7 linked regions of the Homo sapiens genome follow. The protein of the gene in region 3 interacts with the protein of the main gene of each other region in a pairwise test. Each region holds a gene or a part of one and is shown on either strand. Other genes may lie near its edges. The genes, in order: PRPF40A, CASP6, RNF10, UBE2E3, LAMP2, HIP1 and COQ8A.

What was found.
Region 1: the proteins of RNF10 (region 3) and PRPF40A interact in binary tests that used the Homo sapiens proteins (3 or more experiments, as listed by UniProt).
Region 2: the proteins of RNF10 (region 3) and CASP6 interact in binary tests that used the Homo sapiens proteins (3 or more experiments, as listed by UniProt).
Region 4: the proteins of RNF10 (region 3) and UBE2E3 interact in binary tests that used the Homo sapiens proteins (3 or more experiments, as listed by UniProt).
Region 5: the proteins of RNF10 (region 3) and LAMP2 interact in binary tests that used the Homo sapiens proteins (3 or more experiments, as listed by UniProt).
Region 6: the proteins of RNF10 (region 3) and HIP1 interact in binary tests that used the Homo sapiens proteins (3 or more experiments, as listed by UniProt).
Region 7: the proteins of RNF10 (region 3) and COQ8A interact in binary tests that used the Homo sapiens proteins (3 or more experiments, as listed by UniProt).

The regions. Positions count from the first base shown.
Region 1 is NC_000002.12:152,658,076-152,662,446, reverse strand, and holds part of PRPF40A (pre-mRNA-processing factor 40 homolog A), read left to right. Parts: intron 1-3,090; coding exon 3,091-3,177; intron 3,178-3,257; coding exon 3,258-3,354; intron 3,355-3,437; coding exon 3,438-3,499; intron 3,500-4,371.
Region 2 is NC_000004.12:109,696,371-109,700,741, forward strand, and holds part of CASP6 (caspase-6 isoform alpha precursor), read right to left. Parts: intron 1,973-4,371; coding exon 1,930-1,972; intron 1,399-1,929; coding exon 1,252-1,398; intron 117-1,251; coding exon 40-116; intron 1-39.
Region 3 is NC_000012.12:120,554,657-120,559,027, reverse strand, and holds part of RNF10 (E3 ubiquitin-protein ligase RNF10), read right to left. Parts: intron 4,311-4,371; coding exon 4,220-4,310; intron 1,747-4,219; coding exon 1,562-1,746; intron 1,483-1,561; coding exon 1,346-1,482; intron 1-1,345. UniProt on the Homo sapiens protein: E3 ubiquitin-protein ligase that catalyzes monoubiquitination of 40S ribosomal proteins RPS2/us5 and RPS3/us3 in response to ribosome stalling.
Region 4 is NC_000002.12:181,053,267-181,057,637, reverse strand, and holds part of UBE2E3 (ubiquitin-conjugating enzyme E2 E3), read right to left. Parts: intron 1-4,371. UniProt on the Homo sapiens protein: Accepts ubiquitin from the E1 complex and catalyzes its covalent attachment to other proteins. In vitro catalyzes 'Lys-11'- and 'Lys-48'-, as well as 'Lys-63'-linked polyubiquitination.
Region 5 is NC_000023.11:120,427,602-120,431,296, forward strand, and holds part of LAMP2 (lysosome-associated membrane glycoprotein 2 isoform A precursor), read right to left. Parts: 3' UTR 1,026-3,695; coding exon of another isoform or gene 883-1,025; 3' UTR 1-882. UniProt on the Homo sapiens protein: Lysosomal membrane glycoprotein which plays an important role in lysosome biogenesis, lysosomal pH regulation and autophagy.
Region 6 is NC_000007.14:75,732,107-75,736,477, forward strand, and holds part of HIP1 (huntingtin-interacting protein 1), read right to left. Parts: intron 1-4,371. UniProt on the Homo sapiens protein: Plays a role in clathrin-mediated endocytosis and trafficking. Involved in regulating AMPA receptor trafficking in the central nervous system in an NMDA-dependent manner. Regulates presynaptic nerve terminal activity.
Region 7 is NC_000001.11:226,985,102-226,988,723, forward strand, and holds the end of COQ8A (atypical kinase COQ8A, mitochondrial), read left to right. Parts: intron 1-152; coding exon 153-239; intron 240-1,351; coding exon 1,352-1,636; 3' UTR 1,637-2,443; downstream 2,444-3,622. UniProt on the Homo sapiens protein: Atypical kinase involved in the biosynthesis of coenzyme Q, also named ubiquinone, an essential lipid-soluble electron transporter for aerobic cellular respiration.

The sequences.
Region 1 (4,371 bases), on a different chromosome or scaffold from region 3:
AAGTAAAAGAAACTATTAAGTTTCCATGGGAATATAAAGATTTGTATGTGAAGACTGTTTTGTATTTTTAGAAAGTTTTAGAAATTGAGCAGTTTGGCAGCCACATGGATTGATTGACTAATAAAGAAAACTTGAAATTTTTCTTGTAAAGCAGATAGAAGACAGCTTTTAGGCACATTTGAGGTATTATACCACATTAGCTGTGTAGAAAAGAAAGTTTCTGGAAAGTAATGGAATAAATGGTAAGTTTTTGTTAAAATAAGCAATGAAACAATAACATCTCAGGTCACTTTAATAGGTAAGGTTCACTGGGCACGGTGGCTCACGCCTGTAAAACAAGCACTTTGGGAGGCCAAGGTGTGTGCTGATCACCTGAGGTCAGGAGTTTGAAACCAGCCTGGCCAACATGGCGAAATCCTGTCTCTACTAAAAATACAAAAAAATTATCAGGGAGTGGTGGCGGGCACCTGTAATCCCAGCCACTCAGGAGGCTGAGGCAAGAGAATTGCTTGAACCCAGGAGGCGGAGGTTGCAGTGAGCCAAGATCATGCCACTGCACTCCAGCCTGGGCAACAGAGCGGGACTCCTTCCCCAAAAAAAAAAAAAAAAAAAAAGTATTTTGATGACAGTTTCAGTTAGGCCCTTGTAAGTATGCTGAATTGACCAATAATTATTGAATAATAGTATTCGATGCCTATGTGGGCCAGTGTTCTAATTGCTTTATGTATATTATATTTATGAACTGAATCCTTTCAATAAGCCTGTGAAGTTAATAGGTGAACAAACTAAGGCAGAGAGAAGTAAAGTGACTTACAGGGTTGGAAGCCGGGCATGTTGACCTTGGTCAGTGCTTTTAACAAGTATGCCATGCTGTCAGTTTTAGAGTAGCTAATACTTTATAAGCTAAAAACTAGTAGGTGCTTAATATTACAGTGTTGCATTGTAAATGGGCATAGGTCACTAAATTGACTATTTCCTATTTCTTGATTTATTGTTCTTGATTAATATAATGTTAACCACAGTTTTTTCTGTACCATGTACTCACGAAGGCCCTGTATTGTTTCACAGCTGCCTCTAGATGTGGTCCTGTTGGCCTTTTTTTTTTTTTTTTTAAAGCGGGGTCTCTGTCATCCATCCACTCCTAGGCCAGAGTGCAGCGGTGCAGTTATGGGTCACTGCAACCTTGAACTGTTGGATTCAAACAATCCTCCTAAGTAGCTGGAACTGCAGGCACGTGCCATCACACTTGGCTTTTTGTGGGGCTTTTTTGGTTTTTGTTTTTATAAAGATGGGATCTTGCTGTGTTGGGCAAGCTGACCTCAAGCAAGTCTCCTGCCTTGGCCTCCTGAAGTACTGTGATTATAGGTGTGAGCAACCATGCTGGGCCTCTAGATCTTTTCTGTGCCAAATGTAGTGCATACCAGAAGCATCTGCATTACCTAGGAGCTTCTTAGGAATGCAGAACCTTAGGCCCCATGGGGCAGAAATCCTGCGTCTGACTTCATTTTAACCAGATTCCCAAGCATTAAAATATACATTTAATTTTGAGAAGCTCTGCTCTAGATAGTGACTAACCTATTTTCCCCCAGTTCAAGAGTCTACAGATTCTTTCATGATCTATACTGGGGGTAAAGTAGTTAGGTGGTAAATGGAGTAAAAATGGTACCATAGGGAAGGGCTGAACACATTCAGATTTTGGGGCCTTAATAATCTGAGGCTTGAGGTATTAAAGAAAGGTAGGTTAGCATTCAGTGAGATCAAAAGGAGAATAGTCCATTCTGAGATCCAGATTTTCCATTTCCACTTCTGTAACTGAGGTAGAATTTATTCTCAAAGCCATAGAAATGTTTAGGGGCAAGGAGCTTGTACTGTAGCACCCCCCATCACTGCTAACCTAGTAATTGTTTTAATAAGTAGAAATCCACAAAGACAGCATATGGATGTCTAACAATGTCTTGTTTGAGGAGGAAGGAAATGGCTCCTTGGGGGAAATGAAAGAGGGGTAGCAGATTTTGCATTTATTCTGACATCAGCCTTATATATCTCAATTCAAGGATGGCTCTCAGGTTGTTCTTTATCTTAGTGCTTGGCCTAACTTGCTGACCAAAGCCAGATTGATTACAAAAACCATGTCTGAGTGTCATTGTATTTGACTGTCATTAAAAGCAGATGTCACTGCATATTACACTTTTCTTCTAAATCACACCATTCTCTTCCTTAAAAAATACTTTTTCAGGCTGGGCACAGTGGCTCACGCCTGTAATCCCAGCATTTGGGAGGCCGAGGTGGGCGGATCACAAGGTCAGGAGATCGAGACCATCCTGGCTAACATGGTGAAACCCCATCTCTACTAAAAATACAAAAAATTAGCCGGGCATGGTGGCAGGCGCCTGTAGTCCCAGCTACTCGGGAGGCTGAGGCAGGAGAATGGCGTGAACCCGGGAGGCGGAGCTTGCAGTGAGCTTAGATCACGCCACTGCACTCCAGCCTGGGTGACAGAGTGAGACTCCATCTCAAAAAAACAAACAAACAAAAACTTTTTCAGCTGGGTGCAGTGGCTCATGGCTGTAATCCCAGCACTTTGAGAGGCCAAGGCGGGTGGATCACCTGAGGTCAGGAGTTTGAGACCAGGCTGGCCAACACGGTGAAACCCTGCCTCTACCAAAAATGCAAAAATTAGCTGGGCGTGGTGGTGTGCACCTGTAATCCCAGCTACTTGGGAGGCTGAGGCAGGAGAATTGCTTGAACCTGGGAAGCGGAGGTTGCATTGAGCCAAAATCGCACCACTGCACTCCAACCAGGGTGACAGAGCGAGACTTCGTCTCAAAAAAAAACAAAAACAAAAAAAGCCCTACTTTTTCTACTAACAGTTTTTAACATTGTTTTGTTTAGATGTCTAAATGAGTGGGTATAGGATGGGCAAGAAGGAAAAGAAAAAAAAATTGACAATTCTTCACAGTTTCAAGGGATTACATTTCTATATATTGTAGAGTTTTACTCTAAGAACTTACTTCCGTAGCTTTTTAAAGATTCTTTACAGTCTGTCTACAGTAAGTGTAAATTCTTGAAATTTTTTTTTTGTCCCCGTAGCATGAATGTCAGCATCATCATTCAAAGAACAAGAAACATTCTAAGAAATCTAAAAAACATCATAGGAAACGTTCCCGCTCTCGATCGGTAAGGGAATTTATTATATGGTGTCATGAGTGTATTAAAGTGTTAGCATTATTATGAATGAAATTATTTGTGTTTTTTAGGGGTCAGATTCAGATGATGATGATAGCCATTCAAAGAAAAAAAGACAGCGATCAGAGTCTCGTTCTGCTTCAGAACATTCTTCTAGTGCAGAGTCTGGTGAGCATTTCTATTTATTTGATTAAATCATTGACACTGATATACTCAAAGTCTGACACTTTTTATCCTTTTGTGCTACTCAGAGAGAAGTTATAAAAAGTCAAAAAAGCATAAGAAGAAAAGTAAGAAGAGGAGACATAAATCTGTAAGCAAGCTTCTAATTTTTACGTTTCACCTAGGCTTTTGCCCTTAACTTCCTCAGAGATCATAGAACCTTTTTCTATCTAGTTCTCTGCAGCCCAGGACAGTTCAGGTGGGCACATAAACTTAGAGTTTTGTTGTTGCTCTTCACCTTAATCTTCCATTAAAATCAATTGTTGAGCTTTGAAAAAATACACACACCAGTGTTAGGATCCCCATCCTGGTCTTTAAAATTAATATTCTAGAAAGAGACTCGTGTGTGTGCATGTGTCTCTGTGTATGTATGTATGTTTGTGTGTATGTGTAGATTGCAGCTGTTGTTGAGAACCACAAGTTTAAATGTTAAAACAACCACTCTACTCTTGCAGTTCTTATTCTTAGGTGTACATTAAGATCCACCTAAGGAACTTTTTGAAAATCTGAAGGCCTGGGTATCACCACAGACCTGTTGAATTACATTCTTTTTATTTGAATTTGTGCATATCTAATGAATAACCATTTAAGCACTAACGTTAAATTTTAAATAATTCCTACTCAGCAATTTCAAGAAAATAATTTTATTAATACAGCTGTCTGCCTTATGTGTTAAAGCTAACAGCAGTATACTATGTACATATATAAACCAATATTATATTGAGTTGGTGAGAAATGTAGTATCTGTCTGTATTTACATAATAGATACTACACATCTATTATGTGGTAGTAAGTCTCATGAGTGGTATTTTATCCTTCAGAATATTATCCTTCCCAAGGGAAAGCTGTCCCCATGAATCTTGGGTAAATTTTACTAAATCCTTGAGGTTAACAATTCACATTTTATTTCATCTCTCTAAGAGCACATAACCTGTTACACATAGATGTTCTTAAATATTACCT
Region 2 (4,371 bases), on a different chromosome or scaffold from region 3:
TTAGAGGAAGATGAACTATATGATAGCAAAACTACCTACCCTCATGAATTTTGAGCAGTAGTTCTTCTGCTTTAAGATCATTAAAGCATTTCACTTCAAATCCTAGATCTGAAAACCTAGTGGTATATTAAATGAAATGTTAGCCTATAAACTTTTCAAAGTTGTCAAATACCCTTACTTTGGAAGAATCTATACACATTTTAACGACACATAAATTTGCTTTCTTTAGGAGAAAAGAAATGAAATATAACAATGGTGGTTTTCCCTTCATTCACCATGGTCGGAAAGGATTTAATCATAATGACAGCCGATTCAATTTAGAGTGTTGTTGTCTACTATGCAAATGTTAGTACAAATGCAAAAGCCTGTCAACATTTAATAGAACAGAGTAAGGAAAATAACTCAGGCAAGTTTTTTTTTTTTTTTTTTTTTTGAGACAGAGGCTCACTCTGTCGCCCAGGCTGGAGTGCAGTGGCTTGATCTTGGCTCACTGCAAGCTCCGCCTCCTGGCTTCATGCCATTCTCCTGCCTCAGCCTCCCGAGTAGCTGGGACTACAGGCTCCCACCACCACGCCCGGCTAATTTTTTGTATTTTTTAGGAGAGACAGGGTTTCACCATGTTAGCCAGGATGGTCTCAATCTCCTGACCTTATGATCCACCCGCCTCAGCCTCCCAAAGTGCCGGGATTACAGGAGTGAGCCACCATGCCCGGCCAACTCAGGCAAGTTCTTAAGGGAGGCTGCATCAAAGCAAGGCCCATGCTCCAACACTCTTGATCTGTTGTTACCTCATTAGTGTTGACAAGTTATGATAAGTAACTTTTCCCTACATCTAGAAGTCTGGAATTTTTTTAATTTTTAATTTTTTTTAACTTTTCATTTGGAAACATGGAAAAAAATTATTTTATTTTTTATTTTAGAGACAAGGTCTCACTCTGTTGCCCAGCCTGGAGTGCAGTGGCATGATCACAGCTCCGTGCAGCCTTGAACTCCTGGGATCAAGCAATCCTCCCCCTTCAGCCTCCAGAGTAGCTGGGACTACCGCCACCATGCCCAGCTAATTGATTTTTATTTTTTGTAGAGACCAGGTCTCACTCTGTTGCCCAGACTTGTCTCAAACTCCTTGCCTTAAGTGATCCTCCCACCTTGGCTTCCCAAAGTGCTGGGATTACCAGCATGAACCACCACACCTGGCCAAAAGTAATTTTATCACTTAACTGCCTCATCTTGATAGGTAGATAAAACTACTACCTGCGGGTAAGATTGTCTCTATCTGCGCAGGTGCCCCGCCTTTCTGGCAGTGTTAAGTGCCAAAAGAACCTCTCATGATTGAAGATTAAAGCAATTCCTCTCCTCCTGTGGTCCATTTTGTACTTTTCTGCCGGATCAAACATTTCTCTGTTAATGAAAAGTTGAAAAACAATCACTTCAAGTCATATTAAATAATGAGCCCCTCCAAGTTCTAGGTCAACATGTAGATAGAGATCTGAGCTTCCTCCTTGCCAGGCTGATGTTCCATGGGTGTGCTCCAGGAAAGGCCATGCTAATAAGGAAAGTCCTGAAATATCTCTCTGCCAATTGGTAAAGAGCAGCCATGTGCCATCCTGACACATCCCTAACCCTCTGCCTTGATGTCTTTCCCCTGGCCCCCAGGATCCAGCAACCAGGAATAACCACGAGGCTCAGAACCAAGTTCTAGCTCTAGGCTCATGCCATGCCAATTAATATGCATTCTGAACATCACTCCGGGTCCCTCGACAACCAGGGGCAGCACAACCTGCCTATCTACAAATGAGCTCCCCAAAGGCTAAAACTTGGCCTACTCAGTTTTACTTCCTAGCTCCCAGGACCCATTCTTGCTTTGATTTCTGTAGGCTGATCATGACCATCAAAGGAAGAGACCTTTATTAGAAAAGAGCACAGCTTTACCTTTTATAGAAGGCATCTGTTTCTGTCATGTTTTCTTCCCCACCTATTAAAAAAAGTTGATTTTTGTTAATTATTTTTTACTTATGGCAGTAAAATATAGTAGGAACTCCCATCCCCCTTCTGACTCCCAAACTCTTAAGACCCTTCTGTTTTGGTTAGTTTAAAAGCCAAAGTATGTGAAGAAAAGGAAATGAAGGGAAACTGCTTACTAATAAACAAACTATAACAGCTCTATGCTTTCTCACCCCCAACTTGACCTGCAAAATAACAATCTTATAAACAGAAATGGAGAAAATATTACACAAATGCATTCACTGCAAAATATGCCTAGAGTAACAGTTCTGTGATTACGGAGTTGAAATATGAAGTTGCTTTGTTATGCAGAAAATGTTTTTGCACATTTTCTGAAAAAGAATTAAGTCCTACAGGAAAACTGAAATATAGTTTGTGGTTAATGCTGGATTAGCAGTGGTGTAAGCCTGGAAGAGGTAGAAGTTTGGGTGGAGGAAGGGAAGGGCAAGGGCAAAGACTTGGACCTTGGATCTCCTGCATGACACATCTGCATTTCCAACCCTGTAAGGGGAGCCCTCTGCTCTCCATTCTCAACTGGACTCCCTACTCCCTGGACAGCCTTCCACTGAATTCCTCTCTACTCTCTAGAGCAGTGCTATGTCATGGAAGTGTCTGTGATGGTGGAATTGTTCCGTATTTGCACTGTCTCATAAGGTAGCCACTGGCCACATGTGTCTACTGAGCATTTAAATGCAGCTAATGCAACTGAGGAACTCGATTTTATTGTCAATTTAAATGAATTGGCCAGTGGCTTCTACACTGGACAGTGCAAAGTGTGGCATCTTCTACAATAAAGGCCCCATCCACTCATGCATCTGTTTTTACCTGATAGCTCAACAGCTTAGAGGGGAGACAGCAATGAATAAACTGAAATATTAGCAGTATAGCAAGATGCACCCTTCAGTTGAGGAAGAATGACCCTAAAGCATGGACTCTTACCCATCATCTCCTAGCCAAAAGGGTTGGTTCCCCTCTCCTTAGAGATCTCCCCATTACTAGCCCCCATCACCTGATTGATCTAACCTCACTTCTCCTCAAAAAAAATACAAGGTGGGGAATTCAGTTCAAGTCCCTTTTAGCCTATTCCTCCTGGAACTGCCCCAAGCAATGAGACCCAACTAAGACCCCACACTAAGGCATCCTCTGTCTGTACGCCCTAAGTCAGTTTTGCTCAACCTTGGGCATCAGAATTCCTGGTGTGCATGTTAAAATGCAGATTCCTGGATCCTAACTGAGGCAGAATCAGAATCTTGGAGGAAGGAGGTGACAGCTGCATTTTTCACAAAGTGATTTTTACACTAAGGTGTGAGAGCCAAAAGCAACCTCTCCAACTGGTCCTCCCCGCTGCATGGCAGATGAGAAAGCTGTTTAATCCGACCTTTGCCCTAGGTGAGCACAGTAACGAGGTACTTCCTACTCCACACACTGCTCTATGAAGACAGCACAGGGATTTCACTCTTCCCATTTTCAAAAGCTGTCGGAATCTACTGCCTTTTGATAACCTCACCTGCTTATCTTTTAACCAATTAGAGTATAAAGAAACAATAACTTCAAGAAAATTAAATCCATATGTCACAACCATCCTCCTCACATGCCAAAATTCTGCACAACTTGGAAAGCACTCATGTCTCAGTGTCCTCCTCGGTGGCAGCAGGCCAGCGGCTCACCTCCTGTGGCTTCTGCTCCATACTGACTGCTGAGCCGAAGGCGGCTCACAACCTAACTCATGGAAGCTGTGCCAAATGGCTGCTCAGCAAACTAACTCATATCCCTCAGGGTGAAAACACTGGAGATGTATTCTTGCTTGGGTCTTTAAAACTCTTGTTTCTCATATTGCCAAAGAAGTAGCTTCCCAGTTGTTAGCTGACACATTAAAATTAATAACTTAAGATGTGAGTTTGGGTTGTCTCAAATATGCCCTCACATTAGTCAAGACCTACAGGTTTAGGAATGGCTAACTAGTATTAAGTAGCTGCTCAAGAAAATCTGTTTAAAATGACGTTCTGGCCGGGCATAGTGGCAAGCCTATAGTCCCGGTTACCTGGAAGGCCAAGGCAGGAGGATCTCTTGAGCCCAAGAGTTCTAGGACATAGTGTGCTATGACTGCCCCTGTGAATAGTCACCATACTCCAGCCTGGGTAACAGAGCTAGACCCCATCTCTTAATACATTCAGTTTCAAAGTTAACAGATTTGGCAACCTCAGTGAGGGATTTTTTTTTTAAGTTTTTTGTTGTTGTTGTTGTTTGTTAATGCTACGGATGTAGAAAAAAACCTAGGCTCTGGACATCCCAATTCTGATGCTGGCCAGCTGTAACTTACCTTCACTCTCACAAAGTGCACCCTGCATCCTGCAGTACCAGTTAATGACC
Region 3 (4,371 bases):
ATTTTAATTATTTTAATGAATTTAATTAATTAAAAGTAATTATTGCCACTGCACTCCAGCCCAGGCGACAAAGTGAGATTCCATCTCAAATAAAGGGTTAATGACATGATGGTATGTTCATTAACGAAAATTCTGTGGACACTAAAAGTGGTTTTCTTGGCCGGTCACAGTGGCTCACGCCTGTAATCCCAGCACTTTGGGAGGTAAGGCGGGCAGATCACTTGAGCTCGGGAGTTCGAGACTAGCCTGCCAACATGGTGAAACCCCGTCTCTACTAAAAATACAAAAAAAATCAGCCAGGCATGGTGGCGGGCGCCTGTAGTCCCAGCTACTCGGGAGGCTGAGGCACGAGAATCGCTCAAACCCGGGAGGCAGAGGTTGCAGTGAGCCAAGATCATGCCACTGCACTCCAGCCTGGGTGACAGAGCCAGACTCTGTCTCAAAAAAAAATATATATATACATATTATATTATATATCTATAAATAAAATAAAAATAAAATTTATCAGTCTTTTACAGCATCTATCATTTCAGCCTGGTTCAAAAATCCACCCATATCTGAGGATTTTTTTTTAATTAATACACATTTTTAATGTTTTAAGTTGCTAAACATTTAAACAGTCAAAATCACTAGGAAAAAAATATTACACACACACATTTACCACCCAAATGAGAACACACAATCCTTCAGACAGATGCACATCTGAGGATTTATAAAGAAATTGTCCTATATTTTCTTTTAAATAAAAAGGTTAAAACTTTTGGATTTTTTACATTTACTTCTTCAATCTATCTGGAATTAATTTCATGAATGGTATGAAATAGGAATCTAATTTTATTTTTTCCTTAGGGAGAATCAATTGTTTCAATACCATTTATTGAGAAATCTATCTTTTCCCCAGAGACTGAAATGCTATTTTAATCAAATGCTCATTTCTGCATGAAACACAGGGAATACATCTCTGGCATTCATTGTGAGCACTTATCACACTCTTTATCCTAATGGCCAGTCTACCAGTCTGTCTCTTCTATCGGACTACTGAGTTTCTTGACGACAGGCACCAAGACTGGCTGACCACAGAACCTCTAAGATTGGGCACAGTGAAAGACACTATGTAATAAAACCTTGTAAAATGAAAAATTAGGATGTATAGATTAAACAAACTTGAAACCAATAATTAATCTACTCTCTACAAACCCCACCCTAACCTACTGGAATCCTATGACTAATATGAACATGCCAGATGTGCCCTGCCCAAAGGCTTCACTTTCTGATGCTTAGATATATTCAATCACCTTAAAGAATGTACCCAGGATTATTTGTCCCCAAAATTTAAAGAACTCACCTCCTAGATGAATGGGATGGTCTACATTCATCCATTTGGATTTGGGCAAAGCCACCAACACCCCTTTCTCCCTCTTCATCAGCTGCATCGTAATGGTATCACCAACAACATACTGATGTGACTCTGTGGCAACAACACTGAAACATGGACACTCATATGTAGCAGGGCAAGGAGTGAAGAGATTGGGATCTAACTGAGTAAATGTCTCAATCTCACCTCTTGAGATCCTTCTTATGCACAGAACTGTAACAGATGGGACATTTACTCCACGTCTTCTCACTCAGTGAAAGATAGTGCAGGATGCATGCCCAGCAGAAGATGTGTCCACAACGGGTTATCTTGGCTGCAGTAGGTGGATAGAGGCATATTGGGCAAGATGGCACTTCATGGCTACAAATGCGCTGAAACAAAATGCCACCAGAAGGTTCACTGCTTGAAGAACTGATTAGGGACTGTCAAAGTTTTAGGCCTCTCTACTCTCTCATCCGCATCTCTCTCATCTCTATCCCCGTACATCCTTATACTCAACATATCTTTCTAAAATTGTTTACAACGTAGGTACATGTATGATCATTTTTTTCTTTTTTTTTTTTTTTTGAGACGGTCCATCTCCTTGGTTCACGCCATTCTCCTGCCTCAGCCTCTGGAGTAGCTGGGACTACAGGCGCCTGCCACCACGCTCAGCTAATTTTTTAGTAGAGACGGGGTTTCACTGTGTTAGCCAGGATGGTCTTGATCTCCTGACCTTGTGATCCGCCCGCCTCGGCCTCCCAAAGTCCTGGAATTACCGGCGTGAGCCACCGCGCCTGGCTTTGTATGATAGCTCTTTAAGCAAAGCATCAAGGAAACCATAATAACCGTTAAATATAATAAAACTAATACACAACAGGTATGTTGGGGGTTCTACATTAAATAGAAAAAAGTGACAAATCACTATATTCCCATTTATAAAAAAACTTAATATGTATGCATAAAGGCCTAAAAAGGGTCTAGAAGTAATCTACCAGTAACTTCCAACAAAGAACGCATTAAAAAGACTTCATTTTTTTTTAATAAAACTTAAGTTTTTATGCTATGTCATTCTCAGATGATTTTATACATTTTCACAGTAGTGAGAGTTCAAGCTTTTTTTTTTTTTTTTTTTTTTTTTTTGAGACGGAGTCTCACTCTGTCACCCAGGCTGGAGTGCAGTGGCGCCATCTCGGCTCACTGCAAGCTCCATCTCCCGGGTTCACGCCATTCTCCTGCCTCAGCCTCCCAAGTAGCTGTGACTACAGGTACCCGCCACTGCGCCGGGCTAATTTTTTTTTTTAGTAGAGACGGGGTTTCACCGTGTTAGCCAGGATGGTCTCGATCTCCTGACCCCGTGATCCGCCCGCCTCAGCCTCCCAAAGTGCTGGGATTATAGGCGTGAGCCACCGCGCCCGGCGAGAGTTCAAGCTTTAAGGTCAAAAGCCCCTGCTCATAAAGAAAAAGTGCCCATCATTTTGAAATTATTATTCTTCAACAGATACCCTACTAGGACCAACAAGGGGATACCTAGAGTTTATAACTTCAGTAGAAAACACATCAGTGGCTTTGAAAGTGCAACTGAAGCTGGGCGTGGTGGCTCACGCCTGTAATCCCAACACTTTGGGAGGCCGAGACAGGTTGATCACTTGAAGCTGGGAGTTTGAGACAAGCCTGGACAACACGGTGGAACCCCGTCTCTAATGAAAATACAAAAATTAGCCAGGCATAGTGGTGCACGCCTGTAATCCCAGCTACTCAGGAGGCTGAGGCATGAGAATTGCTTGAACCCAAGAGGTGGAGGTTACAGTGAGCCAACATCGCGCCACTGCACTCCAGCTGGGGCGACAGAGCAAGACTGTCTCAAAAAAAAAAAGAGGCCAGGTACGATGGCTCATGCCTGTAATCCCACCACTTTGGGAGGCCAAGTCGGGAGGATCACCTGAGGTCAGGAATTCAAGACCAGCCTGACCAACATGGAGAAACCCCATCTCTACTAAAAAAAAATACAAAAAAAAATTAGCTGGGAGTGGTGGTGCGTGCCTGTAGTCCCAGTTACTCGGGAGGCTGAGGCAGGAGAATCGCTTGAACCTGGCAGGCAGAGGTTGCAGTGAGCCAAGATTGCACCACTGTACTCCAGCCTGGGCAACAAGAGCGAAACTCCGTCTCAAAAAAAAAAAAAAGTACAACTGGGCCAGATAGAGTGGCTCACGCCTGTAACCCCAACACTTTGGGAGGCCAAGGTGGGTGGATCACTTGCAGTCAGGAGTTCAAAAACAGCCTGGCCAACAAGGTGAAACCCCGTCTCTACTAAAAATACAAAAATTAGCCAGGCGTGGTGGCGGGTGCCTGTAATCCCAGCTACTCAGGAGGCTGAGGCATGAGAATTGCTTGAACCCTGGAGGCAGAGGTTGCAGTGAGCCAAGATCACACCACTGTACTCCAGCCTGGGCAACAGAGTGAGACTCTTTCTCAAAAAAGAAAAGTACAACTGTGTGGCTCATTCATGTGCCTCCCTGCCACAAGGCTGAGGCCTACTTTGATAGTGATTGCTACGAATGGCTGCCAATGAAGCAATGGCCCTGTAATGAGCCCAACCCAGATCAGGAGGGTAAGGGGTTACTACTTCCCAGCTTACACATCTTCAGATCAGAGCCTTTCATACACCATCCCTACAGGCCAGAGCCAATTAGTCACAAAATGGACTCCAGGAAGAACCAGGAACTGACCTCTGGGAAACATCTATAGAAAGGCCAGGCAGAAAAGGGTATCAAGCAGTGCACACAGCCAACAGCTGCTGCGTCACCACAGTGCCTTTATTTAGTGCTCCCATTCATAGCTTATGGGCTTGGCTGAGCTACTCACCACTTGTTCCACAAAGTCCCAGTTAACTAATGTATCAGGATCAGCAAAATGAGCTGTGTAGTCTTGGTCTTCAGACACCACAAATTGGCAGCTAGAAATAGGAAAGACAGGAAAAAGCTAGACTGTCAGGATCTACCAATAAACCCTCAGCA
Region 4 (4,371 bases), on a different chromosome or scaffold from region 3:
ATCCTAAAACCAGGGAAGTGTTAAAGGTAAATTAGCAATCTAGAGCAATAAGAAGTAAAATAAGTATAAAAGAAATAAGCCCCAATGTGTTTGCATGTGCATGTGTGTATGAACTTACTTGGAAATATTACAAACTTACAGAGGAAATGCAAGAAAAGTACAAAGAAAATTGGTATAACTTTACCCAGTCTCCATTAGCATTCTGCTCTGCCCCATTTGCTCCTCTCTCTCCCGAAACACACACCCCTCTAAACCTGCAAGCATGCATAGAGACATACTTTTTTCTGAGTCACCTGAAAGTTGCACACGGCCTTTTCCCCATAAACATGTCAGTGTGCATTTCCTAAAAACAATCTCCTATAAATTACAATACAGTTACAATTTCAGTAAATACATTAATACAATTCTTTAAAGTACAATTTGTATTATAATGTTGTCAACTGATTCGGTAATACCCTTTTAAAAAATTAATTTTTCTCCGATGCAGGACCCAGTCTTGGAACCACGTTATTTCCTGTGTCTTTATTCTCCTTTAATATGGGTCCTTTCCGCCTTTCTTTAACTTTTATAACATTAACGTTTTTTGCAGAATCTAGTCTTCTTTTTTAAAAAATGCTCATCATTTTGAGCTTGCCATGTTTCCTCATGATTTGATTCATGTAACGCATTTCTGGCTGAAATAGTAGGTGTCTGGCTGAAATAGTATGTGTCCTTCTCATGGTATCACATTTGGAGGCACACAGCACCTACCTGTACCTCATTGGTGATGTTAAGTTTCATCATCCAGACAAACTGCTATCCAATTTTCCTACTGCTTAGTTACTATCTTTTCCCTGCAACCAATAAGCAATATTTGGACAGACACTTCAAGACCAGGCAAATATCCTGCTTCTTATCAAAATTTCTTCCCAAGATTTAGCATCCATTTGTGATTGCTATGGTTTGATCTGTCCCTGCTAAAACTCAAGTTGAAATCTGACCCCCAAACGCGGCAATGTTGGGAAGTGTCTGGGTCAGAGGGGTAGATCCCTCATGAATAAATTAATGCCCTCCCTCAGGGGTGAGTCCTCACTCTAGCAAGAATGAATTAGTTCCCAAGAGAACTCATTGTTAAAAAGAGTGGCTTTCCTTGGTTTCTCTCTCTTGCTTCCTCTTGCTTTGTGATCTCTTTGCACTTGATGCCTGCCTTTCCACTGTGAGTTGAAGCAGCCTGAGGCCCTCAACAGATGCAGATGCCCATCAGGTGAACCAAATAAACCTCTTTTCCTTATAACCTACTCAGTCTCAGGTATTCTGTTACAGCAATAAAATCATGATTTTCCAATTCTAGAACTTTCTCTACACTTAACAGTTACCCCTTGAGCCTCTTCTCCTGCCTGTACGTATGTACAGAAGTATTACTGGTATGGTCTCATTTTTTCCCAATGCTTTATAAGTCATTACTGACTTTAATTATTTTGATACCCAAATTATTGCAGATTTGGCTGATGGGGAACCCTTTCAAAATGACTCCTATATCCTTGCAACATGTTAGCATCTTTTTTTTTTTTTTTTTTAAGCATTTCCTTCCTTTGGCATAAGGAATCCCATCCTTGGAATCAAACATTTTTCCAAAGAGCCAGGGTTCCTTTCAGTGCGAATGTTGTAAGAAAAACCAAGATCTGAGTCCTAGGTGCTACTAAGTCTTAGTTACATTTTGGTGCACTGCGCTTAACACACCATTACTTTATAAAATACAAACAAGAGAGATAGTTCAAATAAAATCTAAACTCATAATTACTTGTTGGTAAGACGACTCATACGCCTTAAACTCTCCTCAAATATATTTTACTGCCAGTTGATAGAAGAGCTTGGATTCCCACACCAAATTCTTAGTTCTTAAATGTGCTCTCTTCCCACTTATCATGCTATTTGCCATCGGACAAAGTGTACATTTAACTATAGGACAAAGTGTACATTTAACTATTGCAGGATAGTAAATAACTTTTCCTATTGTCTTGGAGTAGACTAAGCAGAGAAGCTATGGTAGTATGATTACTTTGCTGTACCCAAAGACACCTAGTTTAGGACAAGTGAAGGCTAAAATCCAGTCCTAAAATCCAGGTAGTGTTGGCTACCTGTCTGGATTAGGGGCCTCTTTTCATTCTCATAAATGTACCATCTGTTAGTCAAAACATACGGCAAGATGGGAAGGGGTCAGGAAGGGACATGAGCAGTTGCAGGGCTGAGTCCACTGTAATTTAAACAAATCATATTAGAGGCTAGCAACTGACCGACACTCTCTGTCTCTTCCACTGTCTTGAATCATCATCCATTTTTCCTTCTCTGGTGAGTGATGCCAATAAGAATCCAACAATGCCCTTTCTCCCAACTTTATTATTATTTTTTAAAATCTCTATTTCTCTCTCCCTTCGAGTTTCCATCTCAATCATCTTTCCTTGACAGCAAAACTCCTTGGAAATCTTATCTACATCTGCTATCTTCAGTTTCTCTCCTCTGTTGTTACTTGAACTCATTCCCAACAGGCATTTCCTCCCATTACTCCACTGAAACAGCTCTTATCCAAAGTCACCAATGACCTCATCACTACACCCAATGATCATTTCTCAATCTTCATATTATTTGACTGGTCCAGCAACATTTGACACAGCCAATCACATCCTCCTTGATACACTTTCTCTTTCATTCCTAGAATAACATACTTTGTTAGCTTTCCTACATTTCCTGGCCCCTCGTTCTCACTCTCTATTCCTATTCCTTATCACCCTAAGCTTTAAATATCACCAGTCCTCCAGAGCTAAGACCTTACACTCTTCTCTTTTCTACCTACATATACTGTTTTGGTTATCTTATGCAGTTTTACGGCTCCCAATACCACCAATATGCTCTTAACTTCCAAATCTGTAACTGCAGCCTAGATTTTTTTTGCTCTGCAAGACAATGTCAAGAGAACAAGGCAGGCAACAGTCTTGGAGAAAATATTTGCAAAAGATGTACCTGATAAAGAACTGTTATCAAAAATATACGATGAACCATTAAAACTAAAGAAAATGAACAACCTGATTATAAAATGGGTGAAATACCTGAACAGATACCTCACACCAAAGATAAACAGATGGCAAGTAAGCGTATGAAAAACTGTTCAAACTCATGTCATTAGGGAATTTCAAGTTAAAACAAGAAAAGCATGCCACTACACACCTATTAGAATGGCCCAAATCCAAAACACCAACAACAAATGCTGAAGAAAATGTGGAGTAACAGGAACTCTCATCCATTGCTAGTGGAGAATACAAAATGGTACAGGAAATGCAAAATATCTAGATTCATTTTTATGCATCTGGATGTCCACTTTGGAAGACAGTTTGGCAATCTTGTTACAAACATAAACATATCTTACCATAAGATCCAGTAATCACACTCCTGGGTATTTACTCAAATGAACTGAAAACTTATGTCCACACAAAATTCTGCATGCAGATGTGAATAGCAGCTTGATTCATAACTGCCAAATCTTGAAGGTGATCAAGATGTTACTTCAGTAGGTGAATGGATATATAAACTGTGGTACCTCCAGACAACGAAATATTATTCGGTGCTAAAAAGAAATGAGCTATCAAGCCATGAAAAGATATGGATGAAACTTAAATGCATATTAGTAAGTGGGAGAACCCAATATGAAAAGGCTACATACTGTATGACTCCATCTATATGACATTCTGGAGGCAAAACTACAGAAACAGTAAAAATATCAGTGGTTGCCAGGGGTTAGTGGGGTGGAAGGGATGAAGAGGCACAGCACGGAGGATCTGTAAGGGAGTGAACTTTTCTGTATGGTATGAATGGCGGATATGTCACTATATATGTGTAAAAATCCATAAAATGTACAACATCAAGAGTGAACCCATATGAAAACTAGGGACTTTGCATGATAATGATGTGTTAATGTAGGTTTATCGATTGGAATGTAACAACTATACCACTGTAGTGTGGGACAATAATAGCAGGGGTGGTTGTGTGTCTGTGCAGGGGCAGAGATACAAGGGGTTTTCACTCAATTTTGCTATGAACCTAAAACTGCCCAGAAAAAGCTATTAATTTAAAAAATACAAATAAATTTTAGAACAAGCAAATATTTATATATTAAAATAAGAGGTCAATGTTTCTGTAAGTAATGGTTTATAAAAAGAGTTACTAACTTTTATAAACGAGTATGTTCCAAAAATTTGTTCTGAAATCAGGTATTTTGGAACTTGAAACACATTTGGACCATAGAACTAAGGTGGTTTAAATCCTGGTCCACAAAATTTATTTAAACTATTTCTTCTATAATATTAAATAAGGTACTGTATATCTGCAGTAAAAAATACT
Region 5 (3,695 bases), on a different chromosome or scaffold from region 3:
ATAGGGAATGGGAGAGTGCAGGAGGCACACAAACAAAGTATATAGAGTTTTTGTTTTCAGTGCAGGATAAATGAACCTTCTTAACAAGTTAAGGCTCTGAGGGAAAAAAACTTTCTAAACCATAACCTTAATAAACCATAACCCATACAGGTGTTCCAAATCAACACCTTTTTTAAAAAAAGCTGGAGGTCTTACTTCATCCTTCAGTATAAATGTCAAGTCTGAGATAATCAGTATATTCCAAACTCTAGAACAACAACAACAAAAAAAGAAATCTCCTTGTTAAAATATAGTAGCTATTAACAGTAATGAAGAAGACAGCCAAACTTTTGCTATTAAATACAATATCATGAAGCCATTTCTTTCTTAACTAACAGAAAAATACAGATTTAAATAATGCTGATCAGGAGGTGGGGAAAGGAAGTCTTATCATGAACCAAATTTCGTGTCTGCCACCAATGAAAATGAATCCACTATGTTCTTGAATTTATTTCCTGAAGCAAGTTAAATTCTTTAACACCTTTGATTTTGCAAATAACATCAAAGTAGTAAAATATAAGTAACTGTAACATATAAAATTACACATCAGCAAAAATGCTTTCATAATTGGATCCAGGGGCTTAAAATCATTATTTACTTAAAAAATTCTAAGCCACAATTTTTCTTTTAATTATACTTTAACAAAGGAAGAAAAAAAACAGAAAAAAATTGGTCCTAATATATTTTGTCTTAAATAAGTGTACTCATGCCCAAGTTAGCTAGGAACTCACTGAAGTTAGTCTGCATATCTTAAACAATCTATTGCACAGCATGTCCTGGCTTTTAGCCAATGGAAACGTAACTTCTAATTGAAAAAAACAAACAAACACTAGATTTAACTGATTACACAGACTGATAACCAGTACGACTTTTCCTTCTTCCAATCATATAAGAGATAAAGACAACAATTATAAGGAAGCCCAAGGCCACACCCACTGCAACAGGAATAAGAAAGTTGAGGTCAGAGTCAGCAGAACATTCTTCAGCTGTTAGAAAAGAACAGACAGCAAGGAAAGGAAATTAGCAAAGAATGCAATTAAGTAGTAAAAAGCATGCAAGAAACATGCATTTTGAAAGTGTACATAGCTTAGTTTTTTATAGCATTACCTCTATTTTCTTATTTGCTCAATATCTCATTATCACTTTATCTAAAATCACACGAAATTCCTCAGTACGAAAAGCAGAAGGTAAGGGAAGAATGGGAAGGGTCCAAAATAGAGAATTGCGCTTGCCTAATATGGGAAGACTTTAGGTTTGATTATCTAATGACACTGGGTTAAGGAGCCATCATCTACACTTAAAACCACTGCCTGTGTATTTCCCTACTCTCTTTCTCTTCGTCACACCTATAATTAAAGTATAAATAAGAATTCTGTATAAGTAATAAAATTTAAGTTAAAAAAGACTTAGGATCAAGAATGTAGTATATATATACATATATATGTGTGTGTATATATATGTGTATATATATGTATATGTGTATATATATGTGTGTGTGTATATATATGTGTGTGTGTGTACATATATATATATATACACACACACACAATTATTTTTAGCTGAGCGGTGGCCTGGAAGAATAACAGCAGTATCTAATGCGTTGCAGTCCATTCCACCGAACCACCAGGAAAGCAACATGTGCAATGTAGATTTTGAGTTCTGGATTCAGACAGAACTGTGTTTAAATCTTGACTCCTTCCAGTACTAGCCAAAGGACCTTGGGCAAGTTATTTAAACTGGGCCTCACTTTCCTCATCTGTAAGAAGGGGATAATAATACCTATAAGGTATTTGAGGATTAAATACAATTACATTTCTAAAGCATCTGATACACATCAAGAGGTCAACAAGTATTCATTCTCTTCTCTTTTCCTCTTATGCTCATGATCCCATCTGAGGAGGATTAGGTTTTGAAGTAGCAAACAGAGATTAAAATAGAAGTGTTTTGGTATATTACTACTGAAAAAGCCCATATTAGTATTAAAAAAAAAACTTAAGCAAAACATAGTACGGAAGCCCAAAGTGCCCAATTCTGATCTCATAATTTCAAGTGTAAACCAGCTGTTGTTTTACTGTTGAGTGACTAGATTTCATTAGGGGCAATTTTTATCAAAATGCTAGTAATAGTTTTGTTGCCCACTTGATATGGAACCTCAATGAATTTCACTCCCCTTTCTGTAAATAATCGTTAAGGTCCTTTCCAGTAATAGCTAATGAAATTAACAAAATGTGTTATCTGGTGTGATTTATGATTAAGCAATAACTTGTACTTTTCTTCTAATTTTAACTTTTCCTCCTCTTGTACTTTTACCATTCATAAAAATGTTGCTACGGTTCTGAGTACACAACACTCATCTCAGTAACCACACATTAGCCTATGCTGAAAGAATTTACTATATTTTACTGAAAGCTCTCAAAGACTGACAGCTGGGTAACAAGATACACTGTATTGTTAATCAGGAAGTTATAGAGACTCTGATCATGCCCCTATATACATACAATGGGTTAATAATACTTCAATGTGGAAGTCTTCTAGTCTATTAAGCCTTCCTTCTTTATCTATGTTTCATGTCTGTGCTACTCTTATACCATGGAATATGCTTCAACAAGGGCTGATTATCTAGCTCATTTTAATGCCAACAGCTTCTCTTTACACCCCCATCTATGCACTGCCCCACAGGGGCCATCTTGAAGAAACAAGAGCCTAGTTGCTATGCTTCACTGCCTCCCTTCTGAGATTGCTGTTAGCTTACATTTCATAAGTACCACACTGATGACAACACTAAATAGATTTTAATGCTCCAGAGATCAACAAGATGAGGTAGAGAAACACAACACAATCTGTCCTAATTAGTTCATAGAATATTTCTATCTTTCAATACTAATCAGGCATCCAAAGAAGAACAAAACAAGAAACAAAAAAGCAAGTGGCTAAATATGCTTGGATCTTTTCAGTCTATATTGCTGAAAAACAAACAATTATCTTAAAAACTCTAATTACGAAGCCAGTTTAAGTTCTGTTGTAGCCTCTTGGGTCTGTATCATCCCTAGGGAAAAATCACAGGCTTGAGGTACTAACTTCATGCTTAACTTGAACTCAGAGAAATCAGCAAAAGTCACATAACCTTTAAAATGCTGATGGTCCTGAGGACATTCTCTACTTCATTCAACTGAAAACCAAGTTTAAGCATATCTGATGGGCATTTATACCACATCAATATTTATTTAATGAACTTTATGCAAAGGCACATTGATGAGTTTAAATCACTATAGTCCTTATACATTGAAACAGAACACCAGTAGTGAAATGACATTTATTAATTCCATTAAGACACAACTACATATTTTATTCTTATAATGGCCATGTTAATAAGTTCAAGGCATACTTCAAGGTTAGGATCAAAATTTGGCCAGGGCTTCTTAAGATAGACCTTAAAACATTGCACGTTGATGTTCTTTTGAACAAGTTTGTCTCCAGGACCAGTAAATATGACACTTTGGATTTTAAGCTGATTAAAGAGAACAGGTTTTATTAATAAAGACTGATCTCAAAATGCTGGGATTGATAAAAGAATTAAAGTTTCAACATATCAATTTTAAGAAGCAAAGTGTTTCAACAACTGAGAGGTAAGAAAATCTTGTTATTTGCATGTATTT
Region 6 (4,371 bases), on a different chromosome or scaffold from region 3:
TTGGTTGTGAAGTCCTGGCTTCTCGGTTCACTCGCTGTGTGACCTTGGACAAGTCACTTAGCCTCTCTGAGCCTGAGCTATTAAAATGAAATCATAGATATAAATCACCCAGCATGTTCCTGGTACCCAGCAGGCCCTCAATAAATATTTGTTTCTATCTCTTTCTCTCTAGGATCTAAGGCTCTTCTCAACGCAGGATGCATTAAGATCCTTTGCTCTGACGTATGCGCTATCCACCGACTTTTTTTGTTTGTTTCTGGCTTTTTTTGTGTTGTTTTTCCTTTTACAGGGTCTGGCTCTGTCACCCAGTCTGGAGTGCAGTGGTGTGATCACGGCTCACTGCCGCCTCAACTTCCTGGGCTTAAACAATCGTCCTGTCTCTGCCTGCCGAGTAGCTGGGACTACAGGCAGCACCACCATGCCCAGCTAATTATTTGATTTGATTTGATTTTTTTGTAGAGACAGGGTCTCGCTATGTTGCCCAGGCTGGTCTCGAACTCCTGGGCTCAAGCCATCCTCCCGCCTCAGCCTCCCAAAATGCTGGGATGATAAACATGAGCCACTGCGCCCGGCTCACCCAAAGAGATTTTGACTCTCTAAAGGTTTGTTCCCCACTCTGTGTCTTTTCCTCTAATCCCAGAACTCACCTACTACAGAGCACTGTTGCTCAAACATCAGCGTACACAGAGTACCCAGGGCTGTGGTGAACACGACAAGTCCTGATTCAGTAGTTCTGGGTGGTGCCCAACATCCTAATGGCCCTGGTGATGCTGGTGTTTCGGGGCCTGACCACATCAGAGCCCCAAGGCTTGTCCAGGAGCCCCGCAGTGGCCAGTCTGCCTCCCTGCTGACTCACGAGCCCCCCAGAGCCGGTCTCTTTATCTTACTCATCTCTGTGTCTCCTCCACGGTATGTGCTCACTAAACGGATGTTGAAGAAATAAACAAACCATGGAGAAAACCATTTTCCAGCTAAGTAAAAACAGACTATTTTATTTGTCCTGTGATTGACAGCCCTCCTGGCTGATTCCAGAATTGCCCTCTTGGCTGGTGGGAGGACAGTGTGGTCGAACGGGCCTGACACTTGGAACCTGGAGTCCTGGTTTTGAATCCTGGCCCTTCCACTCACCCGTGGGATGACCCTGGGCACGTTACCAAGCTCTTTGAGTCACGATGTCCTCATCCATAAAATGAAAATGATAATGACTGACCACCGTGTGGTCCCAATGATGGCTAGAAACATGCTTTATAAACTGTAAAGTACTCCTGATAAGGTCTCCTTATTACGGCTGGGTTTTCTTTTCTTTTCCTTTCTTTTCTTTTTCTTTTTTTTTTTTTTTTGAGGGCAGGCAGTACTTTTCACTTCCCTAAAGCTTGAAAGTGGCTTGTGATGGATTGGGTGGGGAACACACCAAGGGTCTGGTTGGAGATGGGTGCAGTGGCTGGGCCATGAGGCAGGTCAGTGGTGCCTCCTCTGGCAGTGACAGTGGCCAGGTGAAATGTGAGGATGGTGCAGGAGAGTTGAGGAGGCAAGGCTTCCTGGAGGAGGCTGGCAGGAGTAGGTATGCAAGGCTGGTCTGAGGGTATAGACGCCAGGACAGAAGAAGGCAGGCAGAGCAGTGAGAGTCTTTTGATGGGCATGTGGCCAGGCTCTAGACTGGGTATGCGGGAGGCAAGGCTAGACCAACAGCGACCCTGGAGCATTATAAGAAAACAAGTAATTATAGGCCGGGCACGGCGGCTCACACCTGTAATCCCAACACTTTGGGAAGCCAAGGCGGGAGGACTGCTTGAGCCCAGGAGTTCAAGACCAGCCTGGGCAACACAGCAAGACCCCATCTCTACAAAAAAAATTCTAGGCCAGGAACGATGGCTTATACCTGTAATCCCAGCACTTTGGGAGGCTGAGGCAGGCGGCTCACCTGAGGTCAGGAGTTCGAGGCCAGCCTGGTCAACAAGTGAGACCCTGTCTCTACTAAAAATACAAAAAATTAGCCGGGCGTGGTGGCGCTCGCCTGTAATCCCAGCTACTCGAGAGGCCGAGGCAGGAGAATCACTTGAACCCAGGAGGCGAAGGTTGTAGTGAACCGAGATGGCGCCACTGCACTCCAGCCTGAGCAACAGAGTGAGACTCTGTCTCAAATAAATAAATAAATAAATAAATAAATAAATAAATAAATAAATTTTAAAGATCAGCTAAGCATGGTGGCATGCTCCTGTAGTCCCAGCACTCAGGAGGCTAAGGCAGGAGGATCACTTGAGCCCAGGAGTCCCAGGCAAAACTGAGCTATGATGGTGCCACTGCACTCCAGACTGGACAATAGAGCGAGACCATCTCTTACATAAAAATAAATAAAGTAATTATTAATATATCCTGTGGCCCAGGGCTGAACTACCCACCTAGGCCCAGGGTTCCCTTGCTGACCCCATTCACCACTAACCATGAGCTTCAGGATGCAGGCAAGAGCAAGACACAGACCTGCCCTCAATAAGCTCAGTGTTCAATGGGGGCCACAGAGAGAAATGATGCCAGCACAAGGTCACAGGAACTAGGAGAGGTCACCAGCCCTGCTATAGTTCAGAGGAGGGAGTGGCCAATTTTGCCTCTCTGTCTACCCCAGCCAATGAGTCTCCACTGCACCCGCTGGGAAGTTTATCTGCCTAGTCTAGATGTCTCTTTATTTATGTTCTTCTGTCACTGGAATGCCCCATCCCCTCCTCCACCCAGCAAGCACTAACTCATGCTACAAGATGTGCTTCAGTCCTCGGGGAGGGCTCCCAACCCCAAAGCCTGTGCTTTATCCACGTGCTCTTGGTAATTATCCCATTACCTAGTACCACATCTATCCCTCTAAGGAAGAGTTAATCACAGCCTGCTTGATTGCTCACACTTCTGCTGTCTCGGGTTCGTCTCCCCAGTCAGATTATAACAATAATCACTGAACTAGTGCTCCACAGTTTACAAAATGCCTTCAGGCATATTGGGCTTAATTGAATCCCCACAATAAATCAGCCAGGTAAGTATTATGTTTATTTGACAATAAGGAAACCGAGGCTTAGAAAGGTTAGACAACTTCCCAGAGACCACAAGGCCCATGTACATGCCCAGCTGTAAGCCTCAAATGCCTTCTAACTCCAATGCCAGCATCTGCTCAGTACTCAGAGGCTGCCTGAGGCAGTGGGTAAAGGTTGAGACCGTTTCCAGCTGTGTGACTTCTGGTGAGTTACTTAACCTCTCTGTGCCTCAATCGTCCTGAGAGTAAAATGTGGCTGATACCCACCTCATCCGTTCTTGTCAAGATTTAAAAAGGTAATACAATGATGTCCTTAGAATACTGCCAAACACAATAATTAGTTAGTTATTATTATACCTTGGCTGATTCTCATGGTCTCCTAACTCATTAAATTTTTTCTAATTCATTTTTTATATCTCATAATACATTCTTCCCCTTTTTTCCCTTTGCTTACCAAGCTCTGCAACCTCATAATACATTTGATAGGTAGTCATTAAACAAAATAATTTTTTTGCAGATTGACTAACGTTGGGTTTAGGGCTGTTCTCTTTTCTTTTCTTTTCTTTTTCTTTTTCTTTTTTTTTTATTTGAGATGGGGTCTCACTCTGTTGCCCAGGCCGGAATGCAGTGGCACAATCTTTGCTCACTGCAACCTCTGCCTCCCGGGCTCAAGCAATCCTCCCACCTCAACCTCCAAAGTTACTGGGACAACAGGCACGTGATACCACAACCAGCTAATTTTATTTTTTGTAGAGATGGGGTCTTACTATGTTGTCCAGGCTGGTTCTTTTTCTTTACTCTCCTACACCCCTAAAGAGTTTCAACACCAGAGGCTGGGTGCAGTGGCTCACACCTGAAATCCCAGCACTTTGGGAGGCTGAGGTGGGAAGATCGCTTGAGGCTAGTTCAAGACCAGCCTGGGAAAACACAGTGAGACCTCCGTCTTAAAAAAAAAAAAAGTTAAAAATAAGAGTTTCAACATCAGAAAAATTCTCTTTTTCTGCTCCACTCTACTTCACCCCCACCCACCCCACCCAGGTCAAATCTGGCCAATCACAAATGTCCCACAGAATGTAAAACACCAGAAAACACTGACCTAGACTCTCCTGTTGGGCCGTCCCTGGATAGCAGGGAAACATACCACTCACGGGTGGAAACTTTCACAAACCTAATTTCTATCACTATTATGGGTCAAAGTCTTACGCATATTTCTCTATTGCTCTAGTTTTTACTTATTTGAGACTCTAGAAGGAACGGGTTGTTAAAAAATAATATCTATTTATTTTCTTATTTCATTTATTAAAAAAAAAAATAGGGCTGGGTGCCATGGCTCATGCCTGTAGTCCCAGCACTTTGGG
Region 7 (3,622 bases), on a different chromosome or scaffold from region 3:
GCTGCCAGGCGTGGTGTCACAGCACTGGCCGGGGGCCCTGTGCAGGGAGAGGATGAGGGTGGGGTGGGCTCGGGTGTGGCACTTGGCTCCCTGGGATGTCGGGAGCTGAGCTTTTCATGCTGCCCACGGTCCCCTCCTGTGCCTCTCCCCAGATCATCAGGGCTGCTGCCGACAGGGACAGGGAGACTGTGCGGGCGAAATCCATAGAGATGAAGTTCCTCACCGGCTACGAGGTCAAGGTGAGCAGGGTTGCGGGGGATCCCCTGGGCCTGCTGACCCAGGGCCCGGCTCCCTGTGTAAGAATGGATGAAAGCACAGGGGGCAGCTGCCCTCAAGGGGCCCCCAGAGCCCGGGCCTCCTTGGGCACGGTCTGAAAGCTGGGGCCCACCCCGGCCCATGCTGCCCTGCTGAGCGTGAGATTTTCCGAGTGGGCCAGTGAGTTGGGGACTTGTCGTGAAGCTCTTGTTTCTGCCTCTCACTCTTGCCCACTTAGGGCTTGGGGTTGGGCCTCGATTGAGCCAACGTGCAGAGCAAGTGGGAAGGGAAGCCCCAGCCCTCCCCTCATCGAGCCTCCCTGGGGGGAGTTGGAAGAAACCTTAGAAGCCTTTTAAATAAAGGGGAACGGTCTGTGCTGGTGCCGCCTGAAGCCACCCACAAAGTGGCATTTTCCGCTTGCTGCTTGACAGTGGGGAAGGAGTTAAAGAAATCCAGGTCAAGCCTTGGGTCTGCCGTCTCATAGGAGTGTCATTTGAGGCTTGTCAGTATCTCTGAGCCCCCCTTATCTCAGCTGTAAGCGCTCAGCGGGCAGCAGCTCTCTCCCGCCTCTTCCTTATGGCCACTCGCACTGACTCGATTCCTGGCCGCCCCGTCCCTCTGACCACCTTGGGCTGTCCCTGGCGGCAGCTCCTCTCCCCTGCTCTGCTGGCGGCGGCTTCCTTAGGTTGCTAGTTCCCGTGGGCAGACACACGGCTGCTGGGTGTGTCTTGGGTGGACTCTGGCAGGCTCAGACACGCATGGTGGGAGGCCCTGCCAGCTTAGGCCCACGGACTCTGTTCTTTTTGGCCAGAACAGTGTTTTGTTAAAACTCTGTATGAGTGCCACGAGGCGGGACGCATCCTCTGCACTCTGCCACAGGCCCCGCCACTCCCTTTTGTATCACATCAGCCCAGTCCATGTTACCCTCGTGTTCCCGGCCCCTGTGGGTTTGAGTTTATGCCCATTACCATGATGTAATCCAGTTTACAGCAGAGCTTTGAATGAGAACTCAGCGCCCCGGGCACTGTGGGAGGAACCCGGGCTGGTGGAGGGCTCTGGTGTCTCGCCGCCATTTATCCTTCCTCTCTTGCCCCAGGTCATGGAAGACGCCCACTTGGATGCCATCCTCATCCTGGGGGAGGCCTTCGCCTCTGATGAGCCTTTTGATTTTGGCACTCAGAGCACCACCGAGAAGATCCACAACCTGATTCCCGTCATGCTGAGGCACCGTCTCGTCCCCCCACCCGAGGAAACCTACTCCCTGCACAGGAAGATGGGGGGCTCCTTCCTCATCTGCTCCAAGCTGAAGGCCCGCTTCCCCTGCAAGGCCATGTTCGAGGAGGCCTACAGCAACTACTGCAAGAGGCAGGCCCAGCAGTAGGGCTGCGGGCCACGCCCAGGCCGGCTCCGCGGGAACTCTCTCCCTCAGACAGGCCAAAAACCAGTAGCGAGGTCGTGGTGATGCTCTTTTTAACTCCTTTGCCCAATAAGGGGGGTGGCTGCCTGGAGCCCCGTAGCCAGCGCTTTCCACGGTTTCTGTTGCTAAATGGTTGTAGGGTGAGAAGTGCAAGAATGAAGATGAAGCCCCACTGCTCGGTCAGTCTGCCTCCGTGTGTCCTCTGAAATAAGCAGATGAAGATGAAAGGGCAACTTTGTTTTCTTCTTTTTCCTGATGTGAATGTTAAGCAGAAGGGAGAGAGTCCTTACTCCCTTCCAATCTCTGTTCAGTGCAAAACCCAGAAACATGAACAGATACGATTGTGGGATTTTATCATCTGTGTAGTAGGTGTGTGTATGTGTTTCTAGAGTGAGATTTGTGTTTTCTGCCCTTTTCCTCTCCAGCCGATGGGCTGGAGCTGGGAGAGGTGCTGAGCTAACAGTGCCAACAAGTGCTCCTTAAGCCTGCGAGGCCCAGGCCTGTGGGGCTGGTTCTCACCTTTGACAGCTGAATGTTCCTAAAGAACTGCTGCCCCACAGTGAGGGTGGGAGCAGCGGAACAGGGAATGCCAGACACAGGCTCGCTGCTGCTGGAAGGCGGGGTGGGACTTCCTTCCTCTGTCCGGAGAGGCACAGGTGTCACCAGTTCCAGCCAAAGGCTCCTCACAGGCGCTGTGAATTTTTGTACAAGTCTTGTAATTATCGAATCAACAACTTGTTTCAATTTAATAAAAATGCTCATGGGAAGTGCTTTGGCGCGTGTACCCTCTTCTGTATTCTGGAGAATGACGACCCGTATCTTCTAGCTCGTGGTGGTGGTTCTTTTCTGACCTGACGGTCAGCAGGTTCAGTGTCACAGCCCATTTGCAAGGGTTGGGACTGGTTCAGCGTGAGGCCCTTGGCCCTGAACCTGGAAGGCTCAGCCCCGTTCCCTGTAAGAAGGGAGGTGGGAGGGGTGGAGAACAGGAGGAGAGGTTGCGGTGTCACTGCCCCAGCCCCCGGGAGGCTGTACCACACTGCTGAAGCTGCTGTACCTGGTGATGGTGGCAACTGGGAGGACAGTGACACCTGCCAGCACGGCTGATGCCAGGTCTGCATCACAGTGAGACGTCTCCTCTCTAGACATCAGCTGCAGTTGAGGACCACGTCCTGAAAAGTGGCTTTTCCTGGGGCCAGACTGATTCCTAGATAACAGGACACACTGGACACTGAGCTGGGGCCCTTTCTACGGACCTGTGAGCAGTTGAAAGTGCATCTGCAGAATGCACAGGCCCAAAAGAGGCTTTGAGAGGTATAGGCTTTCAGGGTTCTTAAAGAAAGAAAATATAGTTTCTGAAATTTGGGATTGCCGAGTAGCAGACCCAGTGGGCTCCGGGACAGGATGGAGAGGCCTGGGTGGCGTCCGTGAGGCTGCCTGGCTAGCAGCGGCGCCCAGCACCACTGTCAGATCCCTGGCTGAAACTCTTGTGGCCCTCTTCTTAAGGGTATTTGCTGTTGTCTAGCAAACTCCTCTGCAGCACTCAGATCTGAAGCCATCGCCCTGCAGAGTAAACAGCAGGGGAAGAACCCAGGCCAGCCCCAGCCAGGGCTCTCACAGTCTCCTCTTCCTCTTGAACAACAAGCCAAACAAGTCAAGCAGCAGCATGCGGGGGGAAGGGAGAGGAGAACAACAGCAGCCAGCATTTGCTTCCCCAGGAACCACGACCATAACTGCTGGAACAGGAGAAGTTTTCTAAGGGAAAACTGGAATGTGGTTTGTGTGTCCTAAGTCTGAGAGCCGGCTGAGAACTAGAGCCCTCCCTGTGAAGACAGTGGGGATCACTGGATTGCAAATGACTTTAATCCCCAAGTAAAGCTGGCTCTGAAGCTGGCCACACATACTTATTCTTTTGTACCTATTTTGATTTTTACAGTATTGTGATGAATGACT